Regions from separate parts of the Homo sapiens genome. Here region 2 is linked to region 1. Evidence: fine-mapped expression QTL. A gene starts in region 1. The other region holds a variant in brackets. All regions are shown on one strand. Distances are from middle to middle. Region 1 holds the start of NR1H3 (nuclear receptor subfamily 1 group H member 3). Region 2 overlaps DDB2 (damage specific DNA binding protein 2).

Region 1 (15,506 bases):
AAGAAGCAAATAGAGTAAGAGCCAAAGCCTGGGTAGCCAAACAGTTCTTAACCTTCTTATTTAATCACAAGCCCCTTTATGAATCACATGAAAATTTTGCACCTCTCCTCCAGAAAAATGTTCACACATATAAACACACACATGGAATTTTGCATATAATCCCAAATGGTTCACAAAGACCATTTATTACAGGTTTCATAAATCAGCATCTCTGAATACCTGATTTAACCTAGTCCTCTTACTTTACAGCTTAGGAAACAAACCTAAAGAGAGGAAGTGACTTGCCCAAATTCACAGTTTGGGCATGGGCACAGTTTGAGAATGGATTAAAAGTCAAGTTTTGGCCGGGTGCGTGCTCACGCCTGTAATCCCGGCACTTTGGGAGGCCGAGGCGGGTGGATCACGAGGTCAGGAGATCAAGACCATCCTGGCTAACATGGTGAAACCCCATCTCTACTAAAAATACAAAAAGTTAGCCGGGTGTGGTGGCAGGTGCCGGTAGTCCCAGCTACTCAGGAGGCTGAGGCAGGAGAATGTCGTGAACCCAGCAGGCGGAGCTTGCAGTGAGCGGAGATCGTGCCACTGCACCCCAGCCTGGGCGACAGAGCAAGACTCCGTCTCAAAAAAAAAAAGTCAGGTTTTGTGATTTTCAGTTAAATAGTCTATAATGGGCTGCTTCTTGCAGGCTACTCAAACTGCATTACTAAACTGTAATTGGTGATCCCGAAATCCTTTCAATAAAGAGGTATCTGTCAAAGGAAACCTTTTCAAATTAGTTGGACTAAACGGGACCTAGGCCGGACATGGCTCACACCTGTAATCCCAGCACTTTGGGAGGACGAGGCGGGTGGATCACCTGAGGTCAGCAGTTCAAGACCAGCCTGGCCACCATGGTGAAACCCCATCTCTACTAAAAATACAAAAATTAGCCAGTCGTGGTGGCGTGTGCCTGTAATCCCAGCTACCGGGGAGGCTGAGACAGGAGAATCACTTGAACCCAGGATACAGAGGCTGCCGTGAGCCGAGATTGTGCCACTTCACTCCAGCCTGGGCAACAGAGCGAGACTCTGTCTCAAAAAAAAAAATAAAATAAAGAGGGCTTGGGTAATTGGCAAAATGCTGCATATTAGTGGTAGTGGGAGGCAGTTGAGTGTTTTGTTTTAATGGGCCTCTTACTCCTTGCAAACTAGCCAGACCATTGTACTTTCAGAGTGTAAATCTTTGGCTCACCAAATTTCAGCTATCTCTCAAATTCAGCTTTTGCTTTTCTTCCCACTTGCTCAAATATGTCTATATTCTTTGTGCATGCAAGTATCCCACGTAGGAGGGATTGATGAAGCAGATACTATTTCAGTTTTTATAGGGAGAAACTATTCCAGGAAGGGTGGGGATTACAGCGCAAGTAGATAGTAGAGCCTGAAGCTGAGCCCTAGTTTCTTCACCCCTTTGCCTTCAGCTTTTGCATTTTCTGCCAGATGATTCTGTGGTTCTTACACTTTGGTTCGTAACTACAGGTGCAAAAAAAAAAAAGAAAAAAAAAAAACACATGTAGATAGATGGATATGTGGGCCTATCCCAGATCAAATAAATCAGAATCTCTGAAGGTGAGGACAGGAACCACTACCATATTCTGTGTTGGCAGAAGCAAACCTAAATCCAGGTATGTTAGCCATTTTTTTTCCATCTGAAGAGGCAGTTTTTGTTTTGTTTTGTTGTTGTTGTTGTTGTTGTTGTTGTTTTTGAGATGGAGTTTTGCTCTTGTTGCCCAGGCTGGAGTGCAATGGCGTTATCTCGGCTCACAGCAACCTCCGCCTCCCGGGTTCAAGCGATTCTCCTGCCTCAGCCTCCCGAGTAGCTGGGATTACAGGCATGTGCCACCACGCCTGGCTAATTTTGTATTTTTAGTAGAGACAGCTTCTCCATGTTGGTCAGGCTGGTCTCGAACTCCCGACCTCAGGTGATCTGCCCATTTTGGCCTCCCAAAGTGCTGGGATTACAGGTGTGAGCCACCGCACCCACCCGGCTGTTTTTTTTGTTTGTTTTGTTTTGTTTTTGTGACAGAGTCTCCCACTGTCGCCCAGGCTGGAGTGCAGTGGCACAGTCTCGGCTCACTGCAAGCTTCACCTCCCAGGTTCACGCCATTCTCCTGCCTCAGCCTCTCGAGTAGCTGGGACTACAGGCACCTGCCACCACACCTGGCTAATTTTTTTGGCTTTTTTTTTTTGTATTTTTAGTAGAGACAGGGTTTCGCCGTGTTAGCCTGACCTAGTGATCCACCCACTCGGCCTCCCAAAGTGCTGGGATTACAGGCATGAGCTACTGCGCCCGGCCCCAGCCGGCAGTTTTATATAATGGAGTGTATTTGTGATTTTTGTTTGTTTGAGCTTGAGCTCAAACTTTTGAATCAGCTAAACTTGTATTCTTTTTTTTTTTTTTTTTTTGAGACAGTCTCCCTCTGTCACCCAGGCTGGAGTGCAGTGGTGCAATCATGGCTCACTGCAGCCTCGACCTCCTGGGCTCCAACAGTCCTCCTACCTCAGCCCCCCAAGTGGCTGGGACTACAGGCAGATGCCACCACGCCTGGCTAATTTTTGTGCGTGTGTGTGTTTTCTGTAAAGGTGAGGTTTCGCCATGTTGCCTAGGCTAGTCTCAAACTCCTGGACTCAAGCGATCTGCCCTTCTTGGCCTCCCAAAGTGCTAGGATTACAAGTGTGAGCCACCACACCCAGTCTTATACCTGTATTCAAATTTGATATTTGCCCCTTGCTAGTAACTATCTCCTAGAGTTTACTGTGAGAATAAATGAAATAATGCATGTAAAGATAAATGTATGTAGTAGGGATGAAATAAATGTCACATCTTTCCTTTCTGCCTTCTGTATCATCTCTGAACTCAGGTCTGGGAATCCAGGTTTCTGGATTATTCTCTATGTTGTGATTGGAAGGTTGGGCAGAAGTCACTTGAGTAGATACGCAGTGGTCTGCAAGATGATCCCTGCACTTTCCACCCTTCCAGAACGGTGAAGGAGGGAACAAGAAGCAGTTCTCCTGGTCCATCCCTGCAGACCTTACCCTGTGGCCTGCTTCATGGGAATGAGTACTTTCAGGGCAGTTAGCCAGTACTACCTGTGACCATGGCTGGTGAATGCTCCTGTTTCTGCTTCAAGTTTCTCCTTGCTGTGAGAAGAAACCTGTGGAGGTTCTGGGGGGCCAGATATGTGACTTGGTAGATCCCCGAGTGTGTTCCCAGAGACATTGCCTCCTGCAGGAGCCAAGGAAACACAGAAGAGGCCCATAGGACTGGGGGACTTTGGACCTAACAACTGTGGGCTGGTGGGACTGTGGCACGGGGGTGGGGCTGCCAAAGTGGGAACATGATTCCAGCTGCTGATCACTTCACTGCTTGCCCTGGCTTGAAGTAAGTCTCAGTGGTTGGTCTCCAGAAACTCCATGGAAATACTGCCCACAGGTTTTGGTCTTCTCCCATTTTCCTCTCCTTTTCCCTCTTTGTAGGGATGAGGGTTGGGGTTTCTGAGCTGTAACCTGATAGGACGGCTCTGGCAGTTGAAGTCCTGGTTATAATTCCTCCTAAACAGGAGACCCTAGCCTGCCCACCCCCACTCCCACAAGATGGGGCTCGTATGTGGTCCTGGGTCCTGGGAAGCCACCTGTGGGGAGACTAGGTGTCAGGGGAGGGAGTTGAAGAACAAAGTGGATGAAAGAGGCTTCTCCCAGCTCCCAGAAGATAGGGCACCAGGCCCCAGACCATTGAGTCCTGAGTTTCTTGAAACCAGCCATCTCTGTGACATCTCTGGCTGCCCTGCTGGGCTGGAGCTTCTGGGAGCAGGGAGGTAGAGGAGGGAGCTGGACTGGTGATGTGGGTGCTGGGACAGAATAGTGCCAGTCTCTCAGTGACTAGAGTCCCTGGTTTCTGCTTTTCCAGGACAGCTGGGGCCTTGTGAAAATCAGAGAGGGAACACAGGCGAGAGGAATGGAGAGCCTTGTGCTTGTGACTCAGAGATACCCAGACCAGGGTGGGGGCCTTGGGAGGGGACGACCTTGTGATGAGGGGGAACAAAAGCAAAAGCTGGAGGCAGAAGTCTGAGATGGGGGTGTCACAGGGGCTTTTCTGAAATGTGAAAATGAATACATGGGCAGATTTTGCAACAGCACCCAGCCTGCTGTCTTCTCACACTCTGCTCCCCAGCCCCGGCCTGTTCCCCCTCTCCCACCCTGTGCTTCCTCTCATCTTTCACCAGGCTGCTCTTCTGCCTCAGCCTTCATCTTTTTCTCATCTGGTTCCTTCTGTCCCATCTACACCCCCTGTCCACTCTTTCCCTGTTTCCTGTGTTCTCTTCCCTGGTGCCCTGTTCATCTGTTTCGGTCTCTTTGGCTGCTTGCCCTGGCCCCCGTCCTTCTATGCTTTAATGTGGGGCCCATGGGAACTGGAGTTCATAGCAAAACAGGAAGAGCCGGTGAGCAGGAAACTGGGAATGGGGCAGGGGGTGAATGACCAGCAGTAACCTCAGCAGCTTGCCTCCCACATCTGGACTGGAGCATCTGCAGGGTTCTCAGCCTCTCCCCTGTAGCCCACCAGCCCTGGCTGCTTCCATTACAGCACTTCACTGGCCCAAGACGCAACAAGACAAGATTGTCCTGGACTCTGACACAGCAAAGGGACTGGAGTGAGGACATCTGGGTTCTGATCCCAGCCCAGCCACTAACTGTGTGGTCTTGGAAAAGGCCCTCACATGAGTTTCAGTGTTCTCTGTCAAATGGAGCTCGGGTTACTTACCCTCCTTTCCTCCCAGCGCTGCTCTAAGGACCAGAAAAGATAGTGAAGGGTTTGTGCTGTGTATGGAAACAAGTACAAAGTTCAAAATCCACCAAGTTAAAGCAATGGGAAGACCTACAGCTGAAAGAACTGGGAGGGTGATGATAACTCGTGCCATTTCTCAAACACTATGTGCCACACGTTGTGATAGACTCTCTTTCTTTCTTTCTTTTTCTTTCTTTCTTTCTTTCTTTCTTTCTTTCTTTCTTTCTTTCTTTCTTTCTTTCTCTCTCTCTCTCTCTCTCTCTTTCTTTCTTTCTTTCTTTCTTTCTTTCTTTCTCTTTCTCTCTCTCTCTCTCTTTCTTTCTTCTTTTTTTTTGGAGTTTTGCTGTTGTTGCCCGGGCTGGAGGGCAATGGCGCGATCTCGGGTCATTGCAACTTCTGCCTGCCAGGTTCAAGTGATTCTCCTGCCTCAGCCTCCTGAGTAGCTGGGATTACAGGAATGCATCATCACACCCGGCTAATTTTTTGTATTTTTAGTAGTGATGGGGTTTCACCATGTTGGCCAGGCTGGTCTGGAACTCCTGACCTCAAGTGATCCATCTGCCTTGGCCTCCCAAACTGCTGGGATTACAGGCATGAGCCACCGCACCCTGCATGATCTGTAGTTTCAATCCCACAACAACCTTGTGTGGTAAAAATTACTATTATCCCTATTTTATTTATCTTTCTTTCTTTTTCTTTTTTTTATTTTGAGATGGAGTCTCAGTCTGTCACCCAGGCTGGAGTGTGGTGGCACAATCTCGGCTCACTGCAACCTCCCAGATTCAAGTGATTCTCCTCCCTCAGCCTCCCGAGTAGCTGGGATTACAGACCCGCATCACTATGCCTGGCTAACTTTTGTATTTTTAGTAGAGACGGGGTTTCACCATGTTGGCCAGGCTGGTCTCGAACTCCTGACCTCAAGTGATCCACCCGCCTAGGCCTCCCAAAGTGCTGGGATTACAGGCGTGAGCCACCGTGCCCGTTCTATTTATTTTTCAACACACCATTGCTGGCTCAACTATTCTTATTTTAAAGATAGGGAAACAAAGATTCAGAGACGTTAAGTAACTTGCTCAATCAAGATCACATAGGTAATAAGAGGTTTAGGATTTGAACCCAAAATCTGAGCCCAGAGTCTGAACGCTAAATCAACATGCTGAGTTGAAATTGACTACAGCAGTTGTGATGGCGTGTGCCTGTAATCCTAGCACTTTGGAAGGCTGAGGTGGGAGGATGGCTTGAGCCCAGGAGTGTGAAGCCAGCCTGGGCAACATAGTGAGACCCTACCCCAAAAAAGGTAAAAAAAAAAAAAAAAAGGAATAATAAAAAAAATTGACTAGGGCTAATAAGTACGGGATAGACGAGAATAATATTTCTTTTTTTTTTTTTTTTGGGGACAGAGTCTCGCTCTGTCACTCAGGCAGGAGTGCAGTGGCGCAATCTCGGCTCACTGCAAGCTCTGCCTCCCGGGTTCACGCCATTCTTCTGTCTCAGCCTCCCGAGTAGCTGGAACTACAGGCGCCTGCCACCATGCCCGGCTAATTTTTTGTATTTTTAGGAGAGACGGGGTTTCACCGTGTTAGCCAGGATGGTCTCGATCTCCTGACCTCGTGATCCGCCTGCCTCGGCCTCCCAAAGTGCTGGGATTACAGGCGTGAGCCACCGCGCCCGGCCGAGAATATATTATATTTTTCTTGTTATTCATTCAACAAATAGGAACACAGTACCTACTCTGTTGCCACATCTATGCCAGCCCTGTTTCAGGGGTGTTGGGGGAGATGAAATCAATAAAATATGATGTCTACTTTCAGGGATGGATTTCATGCCCCAGGCAGCAGAGTAGGAAGAATGACTATAGTCTCAGTAGCTGCTGGTTGGAGCCTGCCATCACTTCAGATGGGGTTGTTCCCCAGAAGAGGCAACCCGCATACCTTCCCAGGTCCATCCTGGGCTGCCACCTGAGTTGCCTGTCTTCCTTCTGCCACCTCCACCCCTATCCCAGGCCTGCCACTGCTCATAGCAGATTTCCTATCAAAGGCTCTCCTGGCCTCCTCTCTTATCTGTGGCCCCCGCAGGGCACCCACTTTCAGAAACTCCCTGGAAGGCCCAGCACCTGCCTCTCTCCACCCCTGGATTTCTACCAGCTTGGCTGAGGCCTGGGGCTAGTGGGGAGAGCTTCTTGGCCTCTTCCCAGAGGCAAGGGAGGAGGAGGGAGGCTGGGAAAGCCGCTGGGGCTCAGTGTCGCAATTCCGGGCCGTGCTGGGACCTTTGCTCCACGAGGTGCCTATGGAGGGGAGGGAACACGATTCTGGAGGCTGCTGGGATTGGGGTGGGGGTTCCTGGGAGGCAGTCCTTTTGCAAGAGCTGCTAAGAGCGCTGGGTAAGGAGAGGAAGGGGAGAGACATGGAACTTGGCTGGTCTGCAGGGAAATGCCACTGTTTTGGCCGGGAGTAGGGGGCGGGAGTGGCGGGAGAGGGGGTGGCCGGCTGGGGAGGAGCCAGCCTGGTGGAGAAGCTGCCCTGTGGGCGGGGGTGAGGAGGGGAGGGCTGTGGTCACCAGGCAGGAAGGAGGGGTGGCCTGACCCCTCGGCAGTCCCTCCCCTCAGCCTTTCCCCAAATTGCTACTTCTCTGGGGCTCCAGGTCCTGCTTGTGCTCAGCTCCAGCTCACTGGCTGGCCACCGAGACTTCTGGACAGGAAACTGCACCATCCTCTTCTCCCAGCAAGGGGGCTCCAGAGACTGCCCACCCAGGAAGTCTGGTGGCCTGGGGATTTGGTGGGTCTGCTCCTTAGCAGTGGCCTGGGGCTCTGTGTGTGTATCTGGGGTGGGGTCGGGGAATGTCCTAAGGATCTGAGAAGGGGGTTTCTGGGGAGAAGTGAGGGGTGATGGTGATGGAAGCTTGGGACAGGAGCAGGACTCTGGGTCCCAGAATAACTCATGAGGGGCTCAGGGGAGGAGGTCCTCTATGTGAATTGGGGAGATTCTTGGAGACAGGTTTGTGCTGGGACCCTGGAAAGTGGCACGAGCGAGGTTCTCTAATAAGCAGCGTGTTTCACTGGGTGGAGTGAGCTGTCCTCAGTGTTGGAGTGAGGGGGAAGGGGCCCAAGAGAAGCAGGGCAGATGCACCCAAACATTCCCTGCTGGCCTGGAGGGGACTTTGGGGGAGAAAAGCCGGCACGGTGGCTGGGAGCCCAGACTTTGGAGTCAGAGGAGGGTTGGAGTCTTGACTCTACCGCCGCCTAACTGTGTGACCATAGTTACTTAATCTCTTTGAACCTCAGTTTGCTTATCTGTAAAATGAGTTTAAGAATAGTCCTGAGCCAGGAGCAGTAGCGTGCGCCCATAATCTCAGATACTCAGGAAGCTGAAACCTGATTGCTTCAGCCCAGTAGTTTGAGGCGATAGTGTCCTATTATTGCACCTGTGAATAGCACTGAGTTCCAGCCTGGGCAACATAGAGAGACCCCATCTCAAAAAAAAAATTAATAGTTTTGACCTCAGAGGGATATTATGAGGAAAGCACATAAAGCCTTATAACAGGCTGGGCGCAGTGGCTTACTCCAATAATCCCCACACTTTGGGAGGCCCAGGTGAGAGGATCACTTGAGCCCAGGAATTCCTAGACTAGCCTGGGCAAAATAGGGAGAACCTGTCTCTAAAAAACATAATAGTAATATAATAAAGCCTTAGTACAGGCTAATATATGGCAAGTAAATGTTAGCTGATATTGTTGATATTGATAAAAGGGAGGATCAGGTGGAGAAGGGAGCTGAGGCCAGAAAGGAGCCCAGTTCTAGAAGAGTATAATCTGGGTCCTTCCTGCAGGACAGTGCCTTGGTAATGACCAGGGCTCCAGGAAGAGATGTCCTTGTGGCTGGGGGCCCCTGTGCCTGACATTCCTCCTGGTAAGCTTCATTCCATCCCTCTCCCCTGAGCCCAGACCGCAGGCTCCACGCCTCCTGTAGGAATCAGCCTCCTTCATTACCTGCCTTCTTCCTTCCTCCAGAGAGCAGTCCAGAGTCATTCTTAGTCGTGCTTGCCTCCCGCCCAGATCACCTCTCCCCTGGTTCCAGTGCCTGGCCCTTGCAGGCACCCGCCCAGTCCTCCCCAGTCTGGATTTGCTGCTAGAGAGTTGGCCAGCTGAGTGCTTACCCTGCTCTGGCTTTGAAGAGTTTTATCTGATCTCTGAAATGCATACACTCCAGCCCCCCAAAGGGACAAGGATTAACATCTTCATTTAAGGTCCTGAGATGTAAGAAACTACAAGTGACTAGTCCTAGCTAGAGCCCACACAGACTCTAGGGTCCCAAAGCCTGAGCTGGGACTTTGCTGCCCTCTAAGGGTGGGGATAAGTTTGCAGTTTCCCAGCTAGGACGCTGGGCCGTGGAGCCGGGATGGGGCCTGAGACCCCCTTGTGCCTCTCTTTTGGAGCTCAGACTCTGCGGTGGAGCTGTGGAAGCCAGGCGCACAGGATGCAAGCAGCCAGGCCCAGGGAGGCAGCAGCTGCATCCTCAGAGAGGAAGCCAGGATGCCCCACTCTGCTGGGGGTACTGCAGGGGTGGGGCTGGAGGCTGCAGAGCCCACAGCCCTGCTCACCAGGGCAGAGCCCCCTTCAGAACCCACAGGTGAGGAGCTTCTGGGTTTGGAGGAGGTAGGGGTCCAGATTCCAGGTCCTGGATCTGGAAGAGGTTCCTTGGGGGTTTTTACTTTATATATAATCTCATGGTTAAGTTCAGAGGCTTTAGAGCTAACTAAATCTGACTGATCTAAGTGTGAATTTTGTCTCTAGGCCTTTCTGAGCCTCACTTTCCTTGTTTATAAAATGGAAATAAAAATTATGGTTGTCATAAGGATCAGTGCATATAAAAGGCTCATACAGTACCTAGAACATAATGGCACTTGGCAAATGAGGGCTACTCTTCTCATAAAAGAGAGACTGGAGTTTGTATAATGAAGGGAATGAAGGTCACTGAGTGCCCAGGGCAGTGGCTGAGTCAGGGAGAACATGATGTTTTTCCTCGGGGGAGAGCGTTGAAGCACTTTCCTGTATCCAGAGATCCGTCCACAAAAGCGGAAAAAGGGGCCAGCCCCCAAAATGCTGGGGAACGAGCTATGCAGCGTGTGTGGGGACAAGGCCTCGGGCTTCCACTACAATGTTCTGAGCTGCGAGGGCTGCAAGGGATTCTTCCGCCGCAGCGTCATCAAGGGAGCGCACTACATCTGCCACAGTGGCGGCCACTGCCCCATGGACACCTACATGCGTCGCAAGTGCCAGGAGTGTCGGCTTCGCAAATGCCGTCAGGCTGGCATGCGGGAGGAGTGTGAGTTTCTGGGGCTGGAGTGGGGAAGAGGCTGAGGGGAAAGAGGGGGCCAGGGTGTGACCCAAAACAGGTGCCTGAACTTGCAGGGGCTAACTGATCCCTAAGTATGGATCCCAGTATCTTTCTTGACCGGGCGCGGTGGCTCATGCCTGTAATCCCAGCACTTTGGGAGGCCGAAGCGGGTGGATCACCTGAGATCAGAAGTCCGAGACCAGCCTGGCCAACATAGTGAAACCCCGACTCTACTAAAAATACAAAAATTAGCCGGGTGTGGTGGTGAGCGCCTGTAATCCCAGCTACTCAAGAGACTGAGGCAGGAGAATCACTTGAACACGGGAGGTGGAGGTTGCAGTGTGCCAAGATCATGCCACTGCACTCCAGCCTGAGCAAGTGTGAGACTCTGTTTCAAAAAAAAAAAATCTTCTTGCCTTTACCCAGTGCTGTCTGCTTTTCTGGAGCCCCAAACCACCCCCTTTGCCCCATCCTTCCCTCCTGTCTTTCCCCCACCCCCTTGCCCCATCCTTTCCCCATCTGCTCCCTTCCTCATATTTGGCCCTGTCCTTAGGTGTCCTGTCAGAAGAACAGATCCGCCTGAAGAAACTGAAGCGGCAAGAGGAGGAACAGGCTCATGCCACATCCTTGCCCCCCAGGGCTTCCTCACCCCCCCAAATCCTGCCCCAGCTCAGCCCGGAACAACTGGGCATGATCGAGAAGCTCGTCGCTGCCCAGCAACAGTGTAACCGGCGCTCCTTTTCTGACCGGCTTCGAGTCACGGTACTTGACACACCTGGGGAGAGGCGGCTGCGCCCAGATCACCAGTGGGCTTCTTGATGTCCGACTCAAAGCGCTTTGCCTTTTCCCTCCTGGGTAGCCTTGGCCCATGGCACCAGATCCCCATAGCCGGGAGGCCCGTCAGCAGCGCTTTGCCCACTTCACTGAGCTGGCCATCGTCTCTGTGCAGGAGATAGTTGACTTTGCTAAACAGCTACCCGGCTTCCTGCAGCTCAGCCGGGAGGACCAGATTGCCCTGCTGAAGACCTCTGCGATCGAGGTGGCTGGAGAAGGGCAAGGGATGAAGGGAGAAGCAGAGTGGGATTATCTGTGGGAGGGGCCTCCAGACATCGAGCTGGGAGAGCCAAATCTGCTGGGAAGCAGGGATGAGGAGAATCGGCCTCCCTGGAAGAGGCCATGCTCCAAGACCAGCCCTCCTAGTCCCCGTTTGAGGTTTGCTGCTTGTGTGCAGGTGATGCTTCTGGAGACATCTCGGAGGTACAACCCTGGGAGTGAGAGTATCACCTTCCTCAAGGATTTCAGTTATAACCGGGAAGACTTTGCCAAAGCAGGTGAGAACTGAGATCACACAGGGATTGGGGTTGGGTGGACAGATGCTTCTTTTTTTATTTTTTATTTTTAAAAATTGAGGGCCAGGCGCGGTGGCTCATGCCTGTAATCCCAGCACTTTGGGAGGCCGAGGTGGGCAGATCACCAGGTCAGTAGATCAAGACCATTCTGGCTAACACGGTGAAACCCTGTCTCTACTGAAAATACAAAAAATTAGTCAGGCATGGTGGCACGCGCCTGTAGCCCCAGCTACTTGGGAGATCGAGGCAGGAGAATCACTTGAATCTGGGAGGCAGAGGTTGTAGTGAGCCAAGATCGCACCACTGCACTCCAGCCTGGGCAACAACAACAACAACAACAAAAATTGAGATAGAGTCTTACTATGTTGCCCAGGTTGGTCCCAAACTCCTGGCCTCAAGTGATCCTCCTGCCTCTGACTCCCAAAGTGCTGGGATTACAGGCGTGAGCCACCCACCATGCCCGGCCAAGTACTTTTTTTTTGTTTCATTTTTTTTTTTAGACAGAGTTTGCTCTGTCACCCAAGCAGGAGTGCAGTGGCGTGATCTTGGCTCACTACAACCTCCGCCTCCCGGGTTCAAGCAATTCTCCTGCTTCAGCTTCTCAAGTAGCTGGGATTAGGTGCACCACCATGCCCAGCTAATTTTTGTACTTTTAGTAGAGACAGGGTTTTACCATGTTGACCAGGCTGGTCTTGAACTCCTGACCTTAAGTGATCCATGTGCCTCAGCCTCCCAAAATGCTGGGATTACAGGCATGAGCCACTGAACCTGGCCAGGACTGGTGCTTTTTGTCAGAGGCCCATAGTGACTACAGAGCCACAGGCCCAATGTTTGGGTGGCTGGTAAGGGAAGGCTCCCTTGTTTTTTGAAGATAGAAAATTGGAATGCTGATAGGCTTCTCTCAGCTGCTCCAGATAGACCCCTGTCCTCTGTTGCTTTAGGTCAGTGGTTTTCAAACTGTATTCCAAGGAACCTGAGAGATATATGGAATGGCACCTTGGAGGAGAAACAGGGAGGCACAGGAATGTCCTTCATCTTTACTTTAGCCAAACAAGAAGCTCCATTTAAATCTGCATTATATATTGCACTGCTACATAGTATTTTGCTTGCAGATTTTACAGCTTGAAAAAAAAGTTTGAAACTCAGTGCACTCAACTTTTTAGTAGTCAAAAAGTGAACAAATCTTCCTCACATGTGCTCTTTGGGGATCATGGGGGCTGATTTCCCCTACTTTTTTTTTTTTTTTGAGATAAGTTCTTGCTCTGTCACGCAGGCTGAAGTGCAGTGGCATGAACGTGGCTCACTGCAGCCTCAACCACCTGGGCTCCAGTAATCCTCCTGCCTCAGCCCCCAAGTAGGTGGGACTACAGGCATGCACCACCATGCCAGGCTAATTTTTATATTTTTTTGTAGAGAGTGGGTTTCGCCATGTTGCCCAGGCTGGTCTCAAAATGGTCTCGAACTCCTGAGCTCAAGTGATCCACCCACCTCGGCCTCCCAATGTGCTGGGATTACAGGCATGAGCCACCACACACAGCCTCCCCTACTCTTTTTCTTTTTTTTTCTTTTCTTTTTTTTTTTTTTTGAGATGGATTCTCACTCTGTTGCCAGGCTGGAGTGCAGTGACGCGATCTTGGCTCACTGCAACTTCTGCCTCCCGGATTCAAACGATTCCCCTGCCTCAGCCTCCTGAGTAGCTGGGACTACAGGCGCGCGCCACTACGCTCAGCTAACTTTTGTATTTTTAGTAGAGATGGGGTTTCACTGTTTTGCCCAGGCTGGTCTTGAACTCCTGAGCTCAGGCAATCCGCCCGCCTTGGCCTCCCAAAGTCCTGGGATTACAGCCATGAGCCACTTGTCCAGGCCCCTCCCCTACTCTTTTTCAATTGCACTTTCTGACGAACCAGAACCATGGCATGGCAAACATGCCCAGAGAGGATGTACAATAAGAGCGAATGCTTCCATCTCCATCCTATATCTGAAGTATTTTCTCCAAAAATTAGTTCATTCTGCGGCTCTCTATCTGATGCTCGCTTGGGAGCTACGCAGAAGGGGTTTCTTCATATTCAACTATTGATAATGTTTGTATCATGAGAACTGGCCTGGGAAAGGACGGGAGGCTGAGGGAGTTTTGGAGGGACTGGAATTGAGCTTCAGCAGGAAACCAAGTAGCTTAACGACTGGATGAGTGGGGCTGTAAAATATGGCTGATGCCCTGACTCCACTCTCAGGGCTGGTAGATCTGTGGCCAGGCCAGTCATCAAGCCTTCCTTGGTTTCTGATAACTCAGGCCAGCTCACGTGCCTCTTGCTCTCCCAACGCAGTCCACCCAGTGAGCTTTCTAGGAAGGCCACTCTTCGCTGTAGGGCATAACAGGGCTATGTTGGCACCTTTTGCCTTCTATAGTAACCGGTGTGCTGCCTGGATGTATTGACACCTAATGGGGTGATTTAATGACTTTATCCAGCTTTAAAGCCCAGCCCTGCTCCCCTCTTCCAAACCACTTTTTCCTCGATGGTTATTATCTCAGACCTTCTTAACCGTGGCTCTCCCCTCCTTCAGAATATCCTCCTTGTGGAACCCTGCCCAGTTCTAAGATCTTTGTATTCCTTTGGCACTTGTAGACTCATGCTATCTGAATCTGCACCTATTCATAGATTTATTTATACAAGCAGTTTTGAAGTAATCATGCTTGCATTTCTTATTTCATGAGTGAGGTCTTGGGGAGAAGGAACAGGAGCTCTGCTTGTCAAGTCTCCTCCCCTCCCTATCCGCTACTATTTACTGCATGCAGTAGATAACTGGTGACATGGACTGAGCACATTTGAGGTGTTCATTCCGTGGGCATCAGCAGACCCTCAGAGGTGCATTAGCTAACTATAGAACCTCCTCTTAATTTCTCTATAAAGGGGGCTGTTTGCCACACTTTGGGGCTCAAAACCTCACCAAGAAATGCTTTAGAAAATGGGGCTTGCCGCCGGGCGTGGTGGCTTACACCTGAAATCCCAGCACTTTGGGAGGCCGAGGCAGGCGGATCACCTGAGGTCAGGAGTTCGAGACCAGCCTGGCCCATATGGCAAAACCCCATCTCTACTGAAAATACAAAAATTAGCTGGGCGTGGTGGTGCACACCTGTGGTCCCAGCTACTCAGGAGGCTGAGGCAGGAGAATTGCTTGAACCAGAAGGCTGAGGTTGCAGTGAGCTGAGATCGCGCCACTGCACTCCAGCCTGGGTGACAGAGCAAGACTCCATCTCAAAAAAAGAAAAAAGAAAAAGAAAATGGGGCCTGCCCATTAAATGGACCAACACACAACACTTGATAAACATCAGGGTGAAAGTACAGGAAGTGACTCACCAAGAAGCCTTGAATGGAAAAGTGTAGCAGATGGTTGCTAAAAGAAATCTGACAAAGCCTGGGGAACTCTGTAGGGTGCAGAGACTTTGACAATGTGTATGAGAGACATTCTCTAGGTATCATTACTTTAGCTCATGTTTTGTTGCATTTTAGTCTTCTCAGCAGGAAGACTGTTTCCAAGAAAAATGTATTATTTATTGACCAGGCGCGGTGGCTCATGCCTGTAATCCCAGTACTTTGGGAGGCCGAGGCAGGCAGATCACGAGGTCAAGAGATCGAGACCATCCTGGCCAACATGGTGAAATCCTGTCTCTACTAAAAATACAAAAATTAGCTGGGCGTGGTGACATGCACCAGTAGTCCCAGCTACTCAAGAGGCTGAGGCAGGAGAATTGCTTGAACCTGGGAGGCAGAGCTTGCAGTGAGCCGAGATCATGCAACTGCACTCTAGTCTGGCAACAGAGCAAGACTCTTTGTCTCAAAAAAAATTTTTTTATTTATTTTACAAACACTTATGTGGTAGTTACCATATATGCCACATATTTATGAGATAGGTACTATTATTATTCCCATTTTACAGATGGGAAAACCAAAGCCCAGAGAGGTTAAATAACTTACACAAGGTCACACTGCCTTGTAAGTGGTAGAGGC
Region 2 (15,506 bases), 31 kb before region 1:
CAGGAGGAGGTCTCTTTATTTATTTATTTGTTTATTTTTTTGAGATGGAGTCTCACTCCGCCGCCCAGGCTGGAGTGCAGTGGCGCAATCTCGGCTCACTGCAAGCTCCGCCTCCCAGGTTCACGCGATTCTCCTGCCTCAGCCTCCGAAGTAGCTGGGACTACTGGTGCCCGCCACCACACCCGGCTACTTTTTTTATATTTTTTAGTGGAGATGGGGTTTCACCGTGTTAGCCATGATGGTCTCGATCTCCTGACCTCGTGATCCGCCCGCCTCGACCTCCCAAAGTGCTGGGATTACAGGCGTGAGCCACTGCACCCAGCCAGCAGGAGGTCTCTTAAGTGGAGGGATTTGGAGAGCAGACCACCAGAAAAGGCCAGGTTAGACAGGTGTGGGAGACTGGAATTCAAAGTGTGAGATGGGTGTTCAAGGAACAAGTGCCAGAAGCCCCCAGAAAGGCAGTCAGAGGAGTGCCGCGGACAGAGTGGGGTAGGTTTCCTGCCCAGCTAAAGAGGCAGGTGACCGCTAATAAGGCAGCTTGAAGTTGAAGTCAGAACCCAGAGCTCAGACAGGAAGAAATTTGTTTTCTTGTTTTCTCCAGGAGTCTAGGACATGGGAATAGAGGAATTTAGCTTATGCCTGGAGATGGGAAGAAGCAGTGTAGGGTATTCTAGGGGAAGAGCTTCCTGACTAACAGGATAATGACAAGTGCTTTGAACTTGTGCCAGACTGAGATTGCTTTTTTTCTTTGTTGCATCACCTTATGACATGCGTGTAACCTTCTTTACAGTGTAAACTTTCTTTACACTGTAATGAAGATTGGTCTAGGCATTGAATTTTGTGGCTTGCATTTGCAGGGAGCTAGGTTGGAGCAGAGGAAGGGTATGGCAGTCTGGAAGAGACCTGTCTGGTTTTACTCCCAGATGCTGACAGCAGAATGCTGATTTGAGACCAGTTACTGGAGGAGCAACAGTGCCTCATTTTGTCACTTCTTTAGTCATCTGACCTTGGCTGTGACCTTTACATTCTTCAGGCCCTTGGCAAGGGAACATGTATTACAGTTTCACAATGAAGATAGCTTAATTTTATTCCTATTATAAAAACAATGTATGGGGCCAGGCGCAGTGGCCCACGCCTGTAATCCCAGCACTTTGGGAGGCCGAGGCGGGTGGATCACCTGAGGTCAGGAGTTCCGAGACCAGCCTGACCAACACATAGTGAAACCCTGTCTCTACTAAAAATACAAAAATTAGCCGGGAGTAGTGGTGCACGTCTGTAGTTCCAGCTACTCAGGAATCTGAGGCAGGAGAATCACTTGAACCTGGGAGGTGGAGGTTGCAGTGAGCTGAGATGGTGCCACTGCACTCCAGCCTGGGCGACACAGTGAGACTCCATCTCTCAAAAAACAAAACAGTGTATTCTTATCATAAAATACAGAGAAAAGTGTAAAAAATAAATTAAATATGATCCAAAATCCCCATTTTCAGCATCCCTCTGTGCATGTGTACACTATTTTTTTTTTTTTCCAAGTCTGAGTCTTGCTCTGTCGCTCAGGCTGGAGTGCAGTGGTGCGATCTCACCTCACTGCAACCTCCGCCTCCTGGGTTCAAGCTATTCTCCTTCCTCAGCCTCCCGAGTAGCTGGGATTACAGGCATGCACCACCACACCAGCTAATTTTTGTTTTGTTTTGTTTTTTTAAGACAGAGTTTCACTCTATTGCCCAGGCTGGAGTGCAGTAGCACGATCTCGGCCCACTGCAACCTCTGCCTCCTGAGTTGAAATGATTCTCCTGCCTCAGCCTCCTGAGTAGCTGGGATTACAGGAGCCTACCACCATGCCCAGCTAATTTTTGTATTTTTAGTAGAGACGGGGTTTCACCGTGTTGGCCAGGCTCGTCTTGAACTCCTGGCCTAAGGTGATCCACCTGCCTTGGCCTCCCAAAGTGCTGGCATTACAGGTGTGAGCCACCGTGCCCAGCCTGAATTTTATATTTTTGGTAGAAACAGGGTTTCACCATATTGGCCAGGCTGGTCTCGAACTCCTGACCTCAAGTGATCCGCCCGCCTCGGCCTCCCAAAATGCTGGGATTACAGGCACGAGCCACTGCACCCGGCCTGGGTTTTTAAAATTATATCTTTATTGAGGTATAGTGGACATAAACTGCAGCTATTTCAAGTGTACAATTTGGCTATTCTCAGCCTATGGGGTAGTCCTACTCCAGAGAAGCAGTAAGAAAAAAAGAATAAATTGTACAATTCCATGAGTTTTGACATATGTGTACAACTGTGAAGCCATCACCACAATTAAAATAACTCCCATTTCCCCACCCTTTGTTGAATATTTGGAGAGTGATAGATAGATGAGTTATCTATGCCCCTTTGTAATCCACCCCTCTCTACCCAATATCTTATTCACTGTAAACTGCTGATCTATTTTTTATTTTTAGAAATTAATTTACATTTTCTAGAACTATATATAAATAGAATCATAGAATATATGGTCTTTTATTTTTGTTCTAGCTTGTTTCAGTATAATTATTTGAAATTTATCTACATTTTTATGTGTAGTTTTTTTTTTCTTTCTGAATAATGGTTCATTGTTTTTTGTTTTAAGACAGGGTCTTGCTGTGTCACCCAGGGATGATCATGGTTCAGCATAGCCTCAACCTCCTCAGCTCAAGCGATTCTCCCACCTCAGCCTCCTGAGTAGCTGGCACTACATGCACAGGCCACCATACCTGGCTAATTTTAAAATTTTGTTATAGAGACAGAGGTCTCACTGTGTTGCACAGGCTGGTTTCAAACTCCTGGCCTCAAGCTATCCTCCTGCCTTAGCCTCCCAAAGTGCCGGGATTATAGGCGTGAGCCCCTGCACCCAGCCACATTGTACTGATATGATACAGTTTATTCATTTACCTGTTCAAGGACATTTGAATTTTTTTCTAGTTTTTGAATGCAACATATAAAGCGACTGTGAACATTCACGTACAAGTATTTGTGTGGATATATGTTTTCATTTTTCTTGGGTAAATACTTAGCAGTGGAATGGCTGGATTATAGAGTAGGAATGTTTTAAAGATACTTTTTAAATGAGAAAAGGTTTTTCTATTTGCCCACATATTGTCATTTCCAGTGCTTTCATTCTTTCATGTGATCCAGATTTCCTTTTGGTAATATTTTCTTTCTGCCTGAAGAAATTCCTTTCATATTTCTTATAATGCAGATTGGTGATAAATACTTTCCACTGTTGTTTATCTAGAAAAGTATTTTGCCTTTATTTTGAGGGAGGATGTTTTTGCTAAGTATAGAATTCTAGGTTCACAGTTTTTAAAATTATTTAACTTTTATTTTTTAATTGGTAAATTAAAATTGTATTTTATTGCATACAATATATTTGTTCACAGTTTTCTCCTGTCAGTACTTTAAAGATGATGTCTAGGCTGGGCGCTGTGGCTTACGCCTGTAATCCCAGCATTTTGGGGGGCCAAGGCAAGTGGATCATTTGCGATCATGAGTTTTAGACCAGCCTGGCTAACATGGTGAAACCCCGCCTCTACTAAAAATACAAAAATTAGCTGGGTGTGGTGGCGCTCACCAGTAATCCCAGCTACCCGGGAGGCTGAGGCATGAGAATCTTGAACCTGGGAGGCAGAGGTTGCAGTGAGCCGAGATGGTGTCACTGCACTCCATTCTGGGTGACAGAGCAAGACTGTGTCTCAAAAATAAATAAATAAGGCTGGGCGCGGTGGCTGACACCTGTAATCCCAGCGCTTTGGGAGGCCGAGGCAGGCGGATCACGAGATCAAGAGATTGAGACCACCCTGGCTAACACGGTGAAACCCTGTCTGTTCTAAAAATACAAAAAAAATTAGCCAGGCGTGGTGGTGGGCGCCTGTAGTCCCAGCTACTTGGGAGGCTGAGGCAGGAGAATGGTGTGAACCCAGGAGGCAGAGCTGGCAGTGAGCCGAGATCGGCCACTTCACTCCAGCCTGGGTGACAGAGCAAGACTCCGTCTAAAATAAATAAATAAATAAAGAATAAAAATAAAGATGATTTCTAGTTGGGCTCAATGGTTCATGCCTGTAATCTCAACACTTTGAGAGGCTGAGGCTGGGGGACCTCTTGAGGCCAGGACTTTAAGACCAGCCTAGGAAACACAGCAAGACCCCATCTCTACAAAAAAATCTTAAAAATTAGCTAGTGGCTTGAACTTGTAGTTCCAGCTGTTCAGGAGGCTGAGGTGGGAGAATTGCTTAAGCCCAGGGGGACAAGGCTTCAGTGAGCTAGGCAAGCCTGGGTGACAGAGCAAGATCCTGTCTCAATTAAAAACAAAACAAAACAAAACATCCTGATGAGAAGTCTGCTACTATCCTTATGTTCCTGTCTATGTAATTTTTCTTCTGGTCGCTTTAAAAATGATTATGATGTGCTTGTGGGGGGATCACTAAGCTTCTTTGATTTATGGATTTTTTTTTTCTTTTGAGACAAAGTCTCACTCTGTCGCCCAGGCTGGTGTGCAGTGCCACAATCTCGGCTCACTGCAACCTCCACCTCCAGGGTTCAAGCGATTCTCCCTGCCTCAGCCTCCCGAGTAGCTGGGATTACAGGTGCCCACCACCTCACCTGGCTAATTTTTGTATTTATTTATTTTTATTTTATTTTTTTAGTAGAGACAGGGTTTCACCATGTTGGCCAGGCTGGTCTTGAACTCCTGACCTCCAGTGATCCGCCCACCTTGGCCTCCTGAAGTGCTGGGATTACAGGCGTGAGCCACCTTGCCCAGCCCATTATTTCTTACAAAGAGTTCAAAATGAAGAAAAAGAACAGTTCTTTTTTTCTTGGGACTGCGATTACATATGGTCCTGCAGGTGGTTGATGCACTGTTCATTTTTGTCTTTTTCCCTGTTTCATTTTGTGCAGTTGTTCACTGATCTTTACTTCTGTAATATCTAACCTTCTGCTGTCAATCCCTCCCTCCCTCCCTCCCTTCGTTCCTTTCTCTCTCTTCTCTTCCTCTTCCTTTTCTCTTCTCTTTCTTGCCTGTGCAGAGCAGGGCTGCTCCATAGGCAAAGTAGCCCAGCGTATTTTTCATTTCAGATACTGTATATCCCCTCTAGAAGTTTAATTTGGATTTTTTTTCATGTCTTCCATTTCTCTCCTCATATTTATTATTTCCTCTTCTTTCTTTTTTGAGATGAGGTCTCACTCTCTCTTCCAGGCTGGAGTGCACTGGCATGAGATCTCAGCTCACTGCAACCTCCACCTCCCAGGTTCAAGCGACCCTTCTGCCTCAGCCTCCTGAGTAGCTGGGATTACAAGTGTGCACCACCACGCCCAGCTAATTTTTGTATTTTTAGTAGAGACCAAGTTTCACCATATTGGCCAGGCTGGTCTCAGACTCCTAACCTCAAGTTATCCACCCACCTTGGCCTCCCAAAGTGCTGGGATTACAGGCTTGAGACACTGCTCCTGGCCCGATCCTGTGTCTTTAAAAAAAAAAAAAAAAACTCTAACAAGTAATACTGCTTTTTTTAAAAAAAATTGTGGGCCAGGCTCAGTGGCTCACGCCTGTAATCCCAGCACTTTGGGAAGCTGAGGTGGACGGATCACAAGGTCAGGAGATCGAGACCATCCTGGCCAACATGGTGAAACCCCGTCTCTACTAAAAACACAAAAAATTAGCTGGGCATGGTCGTGGGCGCCTGTAATCCCAGCTACTGGGGAGGCTGAGGCAGGAGAATCACTTGAACCCGGGAGGCAGAAGTTGCAGTGACCCGAGATTATGCCACTGCACTCCAGCCTGGGCAACAGAGCGAGACTCCATCTCTATTTTAAAAAAAAAAAACAAAAAACTGGTAGAAAACACGTAAAACAATTTACAATCTTTACTATTTTTAAGTGTACAGTTTAGTAATGTTAACTATATTCACATTGTTGTGCAACAGATCACTAGAACTTTTTTCTTGTAAAACTGAAACTCTATACCCACTGAACAAGCCTCCACTTCTCCCTCCCCTTAGCCCCTGGCAACCACAGTACTACTTTCTGTTTCTGTGAGTTTGACTACTTTAGATATCTCATCTAAGTGGAATCATACAGTATTTGTCTTTTTGTGACAGGCTTATTTCACTTAATGCAGTGTTTTAAGATTCATCCATGTTGTAGCATGTGGCAGAATTTCCTTTTTTAAGGCTGAATAATGTTCCATTGTTTGCGTGTACCACCTTTTGTTTATCTGTTTATTAATTGACAGACACTTGGGTTGATTTCATCTTTTGGCTATTGTGAATAATGCTGCAGTGAATGTGGATGTGCAAATATCCCTTTGAGACCCCGATTTCAGTTCTTTGGGGCTTATGCCAATAAGTACGATTGCTTCATCAAATGGTAATTTTGTTGTTCATTTTTTGAGGAACCGCTATATTGTTTTCCATACTGGCTATACCATCTCATGTTCCCATCAGCAGTGTACAAATGTCCCAACTTCTCTACTTCCCCACCAACATTTATTTTCTTTTTTTTTTTTTTTGAGATGAAGTCTCCCTCTGTCGCCCAGGCTGGAATGCAGTGGCACAGCCTCAGCTTACTGCAACCTCTGCCTCCTGAGTTCAACTGATTCTCCTGGCTCAGCCTCCAGTAGCTGAGATTATAGGCGCACACCACCATGCCCGGCTAATTTTTGTATTTTCAGTAGAGACGGGTTTTGCCACGTTGGCCAGGCTGGTCTTGAACTCCCGACCTCAGGTGATTCATTTGCCTTGGCCTCCCAAATTGCTGGGATTACAAGTGTGAGCCACCATGCTCGGCCTTTTCTGTTTTTTTGATAGTGGCCATCCTAAGGGATGTGAGGTGATAGCAGTGTAGTTTCATTTGCATTTCTCTAATGATTAGTGATATTGAGCATCTTTACGTGTGCTTCTTGGCCATTTGTATATTTTCTTTGAAGGAATGTCTATTCAAGTCCTTTGC[CTTTTTTTTTTTT/C]TTTTTTTTTTTTTGAAACAGGGTCTTACTTGGTCACCCAGGCTGCAGTACAGTGGCACAATCATAGCTCACTGCAGCCTCGAACTTCTGGGCTCCAGTGATCCTGCTGCCTTAGCCACCCGAGTAACTGGGACTGCAGGTGCTCACCATCATACCTTGCTAACTTTGTTTTGTTTTGTTTTTTTCGCTGTCTCTTACAGAAAGGACTTACTAAGTTAAAAAAAAATTTTTTTTTATAGAGATTGGATCTTGCTATGTCTCCCAGGCTGGTCTTGAACTCCTGTTTGCCTGTTTTTTAGTTGGGTTATTTGTTGTTGTTTTGTAGGGGTTCTTTATATATTCTGGATATTAACCTTTTTTTTTTTTTTTTTTTTTTTTGAGATGGAGTTTTGCTCCTGTTGTACAGGCTGGAGTGTAATGGCTCAATCTCGGCTCACTGCAGTCTCCACCTCCCGGGTTCAAGCAATTCTCCTGCTTCAGCCTCCTGAGTAGCTGGGATTACAGGCATGCGCCACCATGCCCGGCTAATTTTTGTGCTTTTAGTAGAGACAGGGTTTCACCATGTTGGCCAGGCTGGTCTTGAACTCCTGACCTCAGGTGATCTACCCGCCTCGGCCTCCCAAAGTGCTGGGATTATAGGTGTGAGACACTGCGCCCGGCCATGATATTAACCTCTTATCAGATCTATGATTTGAAAATATCTTCTCCCACTTCATAGATTGCCTTTTCACTTTGTCGATTGTTTCTTTTGATGCCTGAATTTTTTTTTTTTTTTTAATTTTGAGATGGAGTTTCACTCTTGTCACCCAGGCTGGAGTGCAATGGCGCAATCTTGGCTCACTGCAACCTCCACCTCCCGGGTTCAAGCAATTCTCCTGCCTCAGCCTCCCAAGAAGCTGGCACCCACCACCACGCCCAGCTGGCCCGATTGATTTTTAATAGTTAAACCAACTTTGCATTCTTGGAATAAGTTCATCCTGGCCATAACATATTTATCGTTTTTAAATATTACTGGATTGAGCTGGCAAATATTTTAAGATCTTTGCATTTGTGTTCATGTGTAAAATTGGCCAAATCCTTGTCACATTTGTGTATCAAGATTATGCTGATTTCTGGCCAGGCGTGGTGGATCACGCCTGTAATTCCAGCACTTTGGGAGGCCGAGGGGGTCGGATTATGAGGTCAGGAGATGGAGACCATCCTGGCCAACATGGTGAAACCCCGTCTCTACTAAATATGCAAAAATTAGCTGGGCGTGGTGGCGCACTCCTGTCATCCCAGCTACCCGGGAGGTTGAGGCAAGAGAATCGTTTGAACTTGGGAAGTGGAGGTTGCAGTGAGGTGAGATCGTACCACTGCACTCCAGCCTGGCAACAGAGTGAGGCTCTGTCTCAAAAAAAAAAAAAAAAAAAAAAGATTATGCTGATTTCTGTGAATTGCTTGAGCCCAGGAGGCAGAGGTTGTAGTAAGCTGAGTGCACCACTGCAGTCCAGCCTGAGCGACAGAGCACAACTCTGTCTCAAAAAAAAAAAAAATTATGCTGCCCTCTTTAGCTTGGGAATTATTCCCTCTTTTTCTAGTCTGTGGAGACGGAGGGTTTAAGATCAATATCTGGCTGGGTGCGGTGGCTCACTCCTGTAATCTCAGCACTTTGGGTGGCCAAGGTGGGCAGATCACCTGAGGTCAGGAGTTCAAGACCAGCCTGGCCAACATGGCAAAACCCTGTCTCTACTAAAAATACACAAAAATTCGCCAAGCATGGTAGCAGGTACCTGTAATCCCAGCTACTCGGGAGGCTGAGGCAGGAGAATTGCTTGAACCCAGGAGGCAGAGGTTGCAGTGAGCCAAGATTGTGCCACTGCACTCCAGCCTGGGCAACAGCATGGGACTCTGTCTCAAAAAAAAAAAAAAAAAAGGAAGGAAAGATCAATATCTCTTCCTCAGCCAGGTCCGGTGGCTCATGACTGTTGGGAGGCCGAGGCAGGCGGATCACTTGAAGTCAGGAGTTCGAGACCAGCCTGGCCAACATGATGAAACTCCATCTCTCCTAAAAATACATAACTTAGCTAAGCGTGGTGGCGTGAGCCTGTAATCCCAGGTACTTGGGAAGCTGAGGCTGGAGAATTGTTTAAACCCAGGAGGCGGAGGTTGCAGTGACCTGAGATGGCACCATTGCACTCCAGCCTGGGCTACAGAGTGAGACTCCATCTCAAAAAAAAAAAAAAAAAGAAATATCTATCTATCTATCTATCTATCTATCTATCTATCTATCTATCTTCCTCTTTCTTCATCTTCTTTTTCCCTTCCTGAACAGTTCAAACCAAAAGTCATTAGGTAGGATCAAGCAAGATAGATGTTTACGTAGTGGGAAGGCTACAGTGCTGGAAGTGCCAGATGCTGGGGCCCCTGAAGCTGAGGTGAATGTCATTACAGGTGGCAGGTGGCAGCTCAGTACATAGAGACTGGGCCCAAACAAGATCAGAAGGGCATCCATGTAGGCAGGGGTGAAGAGTAGAGGAGGCCGGGCATGGAATAGTGAAGTCTGAAGCGGGGTTGAGGATGCTGAACCACAGGGAGGCCTAGAGTGGGGTGGCGGAGTCAAGTGGGGTGAGCAGGGCTTTTGCATGGAGAGGGGCGGCCGTGGCGCCTGATGTGGGCAAGGAAGTTGTGTCTGCATGGTTGAGGGAGTGGAGAGAGGGAAGAGGGTGATTGTGCCCTCGGGAGGGTAAAAGAGTCCAAGCATCCTAAGGAAGACGTGCATTTGGGGAGTGTGTGGCAGCAATAGTGGAAGACTGGTTACATACAAGGAGATTAATCAAATATGTAAGTATATTGAGTAAAATGGGAACCACATTTTTCACTGTCAAAGAAGGGAATTATAAACATGGAAAGAGAGAAACTCGAATCAACTCTGTGGTGTTGACTTTGAATTGAAGACATTGATACAAATTTAAGGTTTTCAGTATACAAAGTAAGACAGTTGTGAAGCAATCTGATTGCAGATTCCTTTTACATTTTTATTACCTTAATCTTTTATAAGTATCTCACCCTATGCTTAATTTGATGGCTCTTCTTTTTTTTTTTTTTTTTCTTCTTCCTAATAGAGACAGGGTCTTGCTCTGCCACCCAGGCTGGAATGCAGTGGCAGGATCATAGCTAACTACAGCCTTGAACTCCTGGGCTCAAGTCACCATCCCACCTCAGCCTCTCGAATAGCTATGAGCACAGGTGTGCACCATCACTCCCAGCTAATTTTTAATAATTTTTTATAGAGGCTGGACCCAGTGGGTCATGCCTGTAACAGCACTTTGGGACGTTGAGGTGGAAGGATTGCTTGAGCCCAGGAATTTGAGACTGGCCTGAGTTACATAGTGAGACCCTGTCTCTAAAAAAAAAAAAAAAAAAAAATTGGTGACACACACCTATAGCCTATAGCACCAGCTACTTGGGAGGCTGAGGCGGGAGGATTGCTTGAGCCCAGGAGGTTGGGGCTACGCTGAGCCAGGATTGCACCACTGCATCAAGGTTTTGAACTCCTGGCCTTAAGCGATTCTCCTGCCCCAGCCCCTCAAAATACTGGGATTATAGATGTGAGCTACTGTGCCCAGCCAATAGCTATTATTTTTGCAACTCATTATCAAGTTCTTCCAAAGCTTTCAACACGGCTTTTATAGTAGTAATAATGGCCTTTGTTTTTGCATGTATTTCATCAATTTACATGCTTAATTAAATTTGGTGTTAATTGCAATAAAAGATACAATTGGAATAAACAGGTTTGAGAACAACTACAACCAACCCTTGGTTTGGTAAGCATAGAACTCAACTGGAGGGAGCCGAAGATTGTCATACTACCAGCAAGCATTTGGCAGACCATGAGCATTAGAATGACCGTGAGGTTAGAATGTTTTATAGAGGGAAGGGAATGTGCCAGTTAGTATGTTGTGATAGCTAAGTGGTTGTTGCATAGAAGAACTTGTACAGGTCTGTGAGGCTGGGATAGCTGCAGCGTAAAGAAGAAGTGGAAAAGGTGGAGAAAGGCGGACAAGTGGAGAACTTTACATCTTGGGGATGTAAAGTTCTTAAAACAGTGCCTGACTGGGCGCAGTGGCTCACGCCTGTAATCCCAGCACTTTGGGAAGCCGAGGCAGGCCAATCACCTGAGGTCAGGAGTTCGAGACCAGCCTGACCAACATGGTGAAACCTGTCTTTACTAAAAATACAAAAATTAGCTGGGTGTGATGGTGTGGGCATGTAATCCCAGCTACTCAGGAGGCTGAGGCAGGAGGATCACTGGAATCCAGGAGGTGGAGGCTGCAGTGAGCTGAGGTTGTGCCACCGCACTTCAGCCTGGGCGACAGAGCAAGCCTTCATCTCAAAAAAAAAAAAAAAAAAAAAAAAACACACAAAGAAAATCCCCCCAAAAAACCAGCGCCTAGTACATAGTAAGCACTTAATAAGGTTAAGCCATTGATATTCTCATGATTATTTTCATCATCATTTTCATGAATGTTTGGAAGAATAGGAAGGGGCACAGATCTGACTCCTGCCCTCCTAACTCAGCCACTGCTCTGAGCTGAAGCTCTTCTAAAGAGAGCACTGTGGGAATAACAAATTAGGGCACATCCATGTAATGGAATACCTCAGCAATAAAATGAGATGAGCTCTTGATACAGCAAACTCAGATGAATCTCAGAGGCATGATGAGTGAAATGAAACAAGACAGTCTCAAAAGGTTGCATACTGCCTAATTCATTTACATGACATTCTATTTTTAATTTTATTTTATTTTATTTTTAGAGACAGGGTCTTGCTCTGTCACCCACGCTAGAGTGCAGTGATTCGATCGCAACTCACTGCAGCCTCGACCTCCAGGCTTCCGTCATCTTCCCACCTCAGCCTTCTGAGTAGCTAGAACCACATGCACCTACCACCATGTCTAAATTTTTTTTGTGTGTGTAGAGATGGGGTCTCCCTATATTGCTTAGGCTGGTCTTGAACTCCTGGCCTCAAGCAATCCCCCCGCCTCAGTCTCCCCAGGTGTTGGGATTACTGTGCTCGGTCTATAGGACATTCTATGAGGGCAAAACAATAGTGATGGAGAACAGATCAGCCAGGGGCTGGGGGCGAGGGGAGGGTGTGATTACAATGGGATACCACGATGGAGTTTTTGGGCTGTTGCAAATGTTCTGCATCCTGATTTGGGTGGTGGTTATTTAAGTCTATACATATGTTAAAATTCAGAGAACTTTATATCCCAAATTTGCTATATGTTAATTAAAAAAAAAAGTAAAAATAAAGCCTTAAGAAATGAAGGGAGGCGGGGCACGGTGGCTCACGCCTGTAATCCCAGCACTTTGGGAGGCCAAGGGTGGCGGATTACCTGAGGGCAGGAGTTCCAGACCAGCCTGGCCAACATGGTGAAACCCTGTCTCTACTAAAAATATACAATTTAGCCATGCGTGGTGGTGGGCACCTGTAATCCCAGCTGCTTGGGAGGCTGAGGCAGGAGAATCGCTTGAACCTGGAAGGCAGAGGTTGCAGTGAGCCGAGGTCGTGACAGAGCAGGACTCCATCTCAAAAACATAAAAATAAAAATAAAAATAAAAAAAAGAAAGAAATGAAGGGGCCAGACAAAGCGGCTCATGCCTGTAATCTTAGCACTTTGGGAAGCCGTGGCAGGGGGATCGCTTGAGCTTAGGAGTTCAAGACCAGCTTGGGCAACGTGACAAAACCCCATCTTAAAAAAAAAAAATAGAAAAATTAGCTGGGCATGGTGGCACGCACTTGGGAGGCTGAGGTGGGAGGATCGCTTGAGCCCAGGAGATTGAGGCTGCAGTGAGCCGTGTTTGTGCCACTGCACTTCAGCCTAAGTGACAGAGAAAGACCCTATTTCAAAGGAAAAGAAAAAGAAGTGAAGGCCCTGTAGAGAGCGTCCTAGTGTCTAAGCTGACCTGGCCCCAAGCGCTGCTCGAGGGGTGCTTCTGTGACGGCGCAGCATGTGTGCCCAGGCCTGGTTCCTCACGGCCAGGCCCATCATCACTCACTGGCTTTTTCCTTCCTCGTGTTAGATTGGAGCTGGAGGGAGCATCACTGGGCTGAAGTTTAACCCTCTCAATACCAACCAGTTTTACGCCTCCTCAATGGAGGGAACAACTAGGCTGCAAGACTTTAAAGGCAACATTCTACGAGTTTTTGCCAGCTCAGACACCATCAAGTGAGTAGTTTAACTAGCAGGGGAAAGGGCTTCTAAGCTTAGGTGTAGTTCCGGCAAGAGCATCCAGATCCCATTTCCTTAACCCAACCTGGCCCAGGGAAGAAAGGAAAGATGTCAGCCACTTTCCGCCCTTCTTTCTCTTTCTCAAACTGCTCCTTGGCTGCCCTCACTTTGGTCCAGGTGGGTTACTGCTTTGGGAAGGTGTTCTGGAGCCTCAGCTCTTCTGTAAGTCATACCTGTATTAGACTGGACCTTGACCCTCACTAGATAAGCCAGCATGGCGTGGACCCAGAAAGCCACCTAGAGAATGGAGCAACAGCTCAGAACTTGAGACTGAATGCCCTGCACTCACTGTGGTGTAATGACCTGACCTGTTCCTGGGTGGAAGCTTATATGGATGGAATCTTTTCCATAAAGTGCTCTGGACTTCCCAAGAGAAAGTGGCTGGAGAAATTACAGAATGCGGCCGGGTGCAGTGGCTCATGCTTGAAATCCCAGCACTTTGGGAGGCCAAGGTGGGTGGATCACCTGAGGTCAGGAGTTCGAGACCAGCCTGGCCAACATGGTGAAACCCCCATCTCTACTAACAATACAAAAAATTAGCTGGGCGTGGTGGTAGGCCCCTGTAATTCCCAGCTACTTGGGAGGCTGAAGCAAGAGAATCGCTTGAACCCAGGAGGCAGAGGTTGCAGTGAGCCGAGATGGCGCCATTGCACTCCATCCTGGGCAACAAGAGCGAAAATCTATCTCAAAAAAAAAAAAAAAAAATTACAGAATACTCGTCACTTTGATTTCCAGCTAGAGCCGTGACTCTGACTGCTCCCTGAGGAATTAAGTGAGGGTGCTGGGGTGTAACTAGCATTGGATTGGATCCTGGGCTGTCCCGCAGGGATGAGGAGTGCATGCGCACGCAAATCAGCAGGCAATTGGATAGACAAGGCTCCAGGCTACTCTTCCGCAAGAAATCTTCCTGCTTGAAGATATTCATAGGGGATGGCAAAAGGCAGTGTAGCATGGATTTGAGAGTTTGAGAGAAAAACTGTGAGCTGAGCTCTTCTGGCTGAATAGCAGGATCCCTGAAGCACCCTCCTAGTCAGCCTCCCAGTCCAGTGGTTTGAGGGACCAGAAGAGCTCCTGGTTGTGTTTTTTCCCCCAGTGTTCAGAAGGGGGCAGAAGTGCTTTTCTAGCCAGCTCTGAGGAACAGGGCCAGGCAATCCCTCTTTGGCTTGTGTCTCCTTTGGCCTAAAGGGTGAAGAGTGAAAGGAGAGAGCAGTAAAGGAGGCTTGCTCAGAACCCGGGGTGTGGGGGGCAGGCGTGCCTCAGGGCTTGCTTTATGGTATAAGCTTTGTCTGCTTCAGGGACTTTTAGGAGCTGGGGATCCTGGGCCCAGCCATAACCAGACAGATTTCTGAGCCCCATTATCCCATCCCCTCTGTCTGGACGGTAGAGCAGTCTGAATGTTCCTCACTAGGAATCCACGGCAAGACAGTTATTCATTCATTCAACAAATATTTATTGAATGCCCGCTGTGGGTTAGTCACCGGAGCGGCAACAGTGAGTAAATAGGACTATCTCTGTCCCCAAGAATCTTACAACACAGTCTCTCCCTCCAGCATCTGGTTTTGTAGCCTGGATGTGTCTGCTAGTAGCCGAATGGTGGTCACAGGAGACAACGTGGGGAACGTGATCCTGCTGAACATGGACGGCAAAGAGGTGCGTTCTCCGAGGTCCTGCCTTTCCCTCCCTCACCCCCACCTCGGTTCTGTGTCCCCACCTGAACCGAGCTCTTCTCTGCAGCTTTGGAATCTCAGAATGCACAAAAAGAAAGTGACGCATGTGGCCCTGAACCCATGCTGTGATTGGTTCCTGGCCACAGCCTCCGTAGATCAAACAGTGAAAATTTGGGACCTGCGCCAGGTTAGAGGGAAAGCCAGCTTCCTCTACTCGCTGCCGCACAGGCATCCTGTCAACGCAGGTGTGATATCCCAGACCTCATCTCTCCTGCAGACCCTGCCTGTCTGACCACTGCTGGGGTTTTCCCTCAGTGTGGAAGCCACTACGTCAAACCTTTACCCCTGATAGCGTCTGCCAAGCTGATGTCTGGGAACCTTTGTGGCTGTGGCTGTCCCCATCAGCTGCTGAGTTTCCAGAATTTTTTTGTTGTTGTTCACAGCCCAGATTCACCTCTTCCTTTCCGCTCCTGTCTAGAGAGGAGTGGGAGGGAGAGTACCCCTGCAGGAGAAGGCCTGCAAGGCCAGGACCACAGAGGGCTTGTGGTTCCTTCAGCTCAGGGGCTTTTCACTTTGCCAGC

The links.
Region 2: its variant is fine-mapped to the expression of NR1H3 in whole blood (INTERVAL, PIP above 0.99).

What each region holds. Positions count from the first base shown.
Region 1 is chr11:47,250,538-47,266,043 of GRCh38, forward strand. NR1H3 (nuclear receptor subfamily 1 group H member 3) reads left to right here and starts at 7,459. Exons shown (of 10, transcript NM_005693.4): 1 at 7,459-7,592; 2 at 8,643-8,722; 3 at 9,254-9,442; 4 at 9,872-10,138; 5 at 10,704-10,912; 6 at 11,010-11,189; 7 at 11,382-11,481. The coding sequence starts at 8,680. RefSeq lists enhancers at 8,899-9,467, 14,701-14,995.
Region 2 is chr11:47,219,765-47,235,270 of GRCh38, forward strand. It overlaps DDB2 (damage specific DNA binding protein 2), which reads left to right. Exons shown (of 10, transcript NM_000107.3): 4 at 13,050-13,195; 5 at 14,809-14,908; 6 at 14,993-15,170; 7 at 15,506. Among named protein-coding and RNA genes, the nearest start is that of DDB2, 13 kb to the left of the region's middle. The variant CTTTTTTTTTTTT/C (reference allele first, on the strand shown) is at 6,970.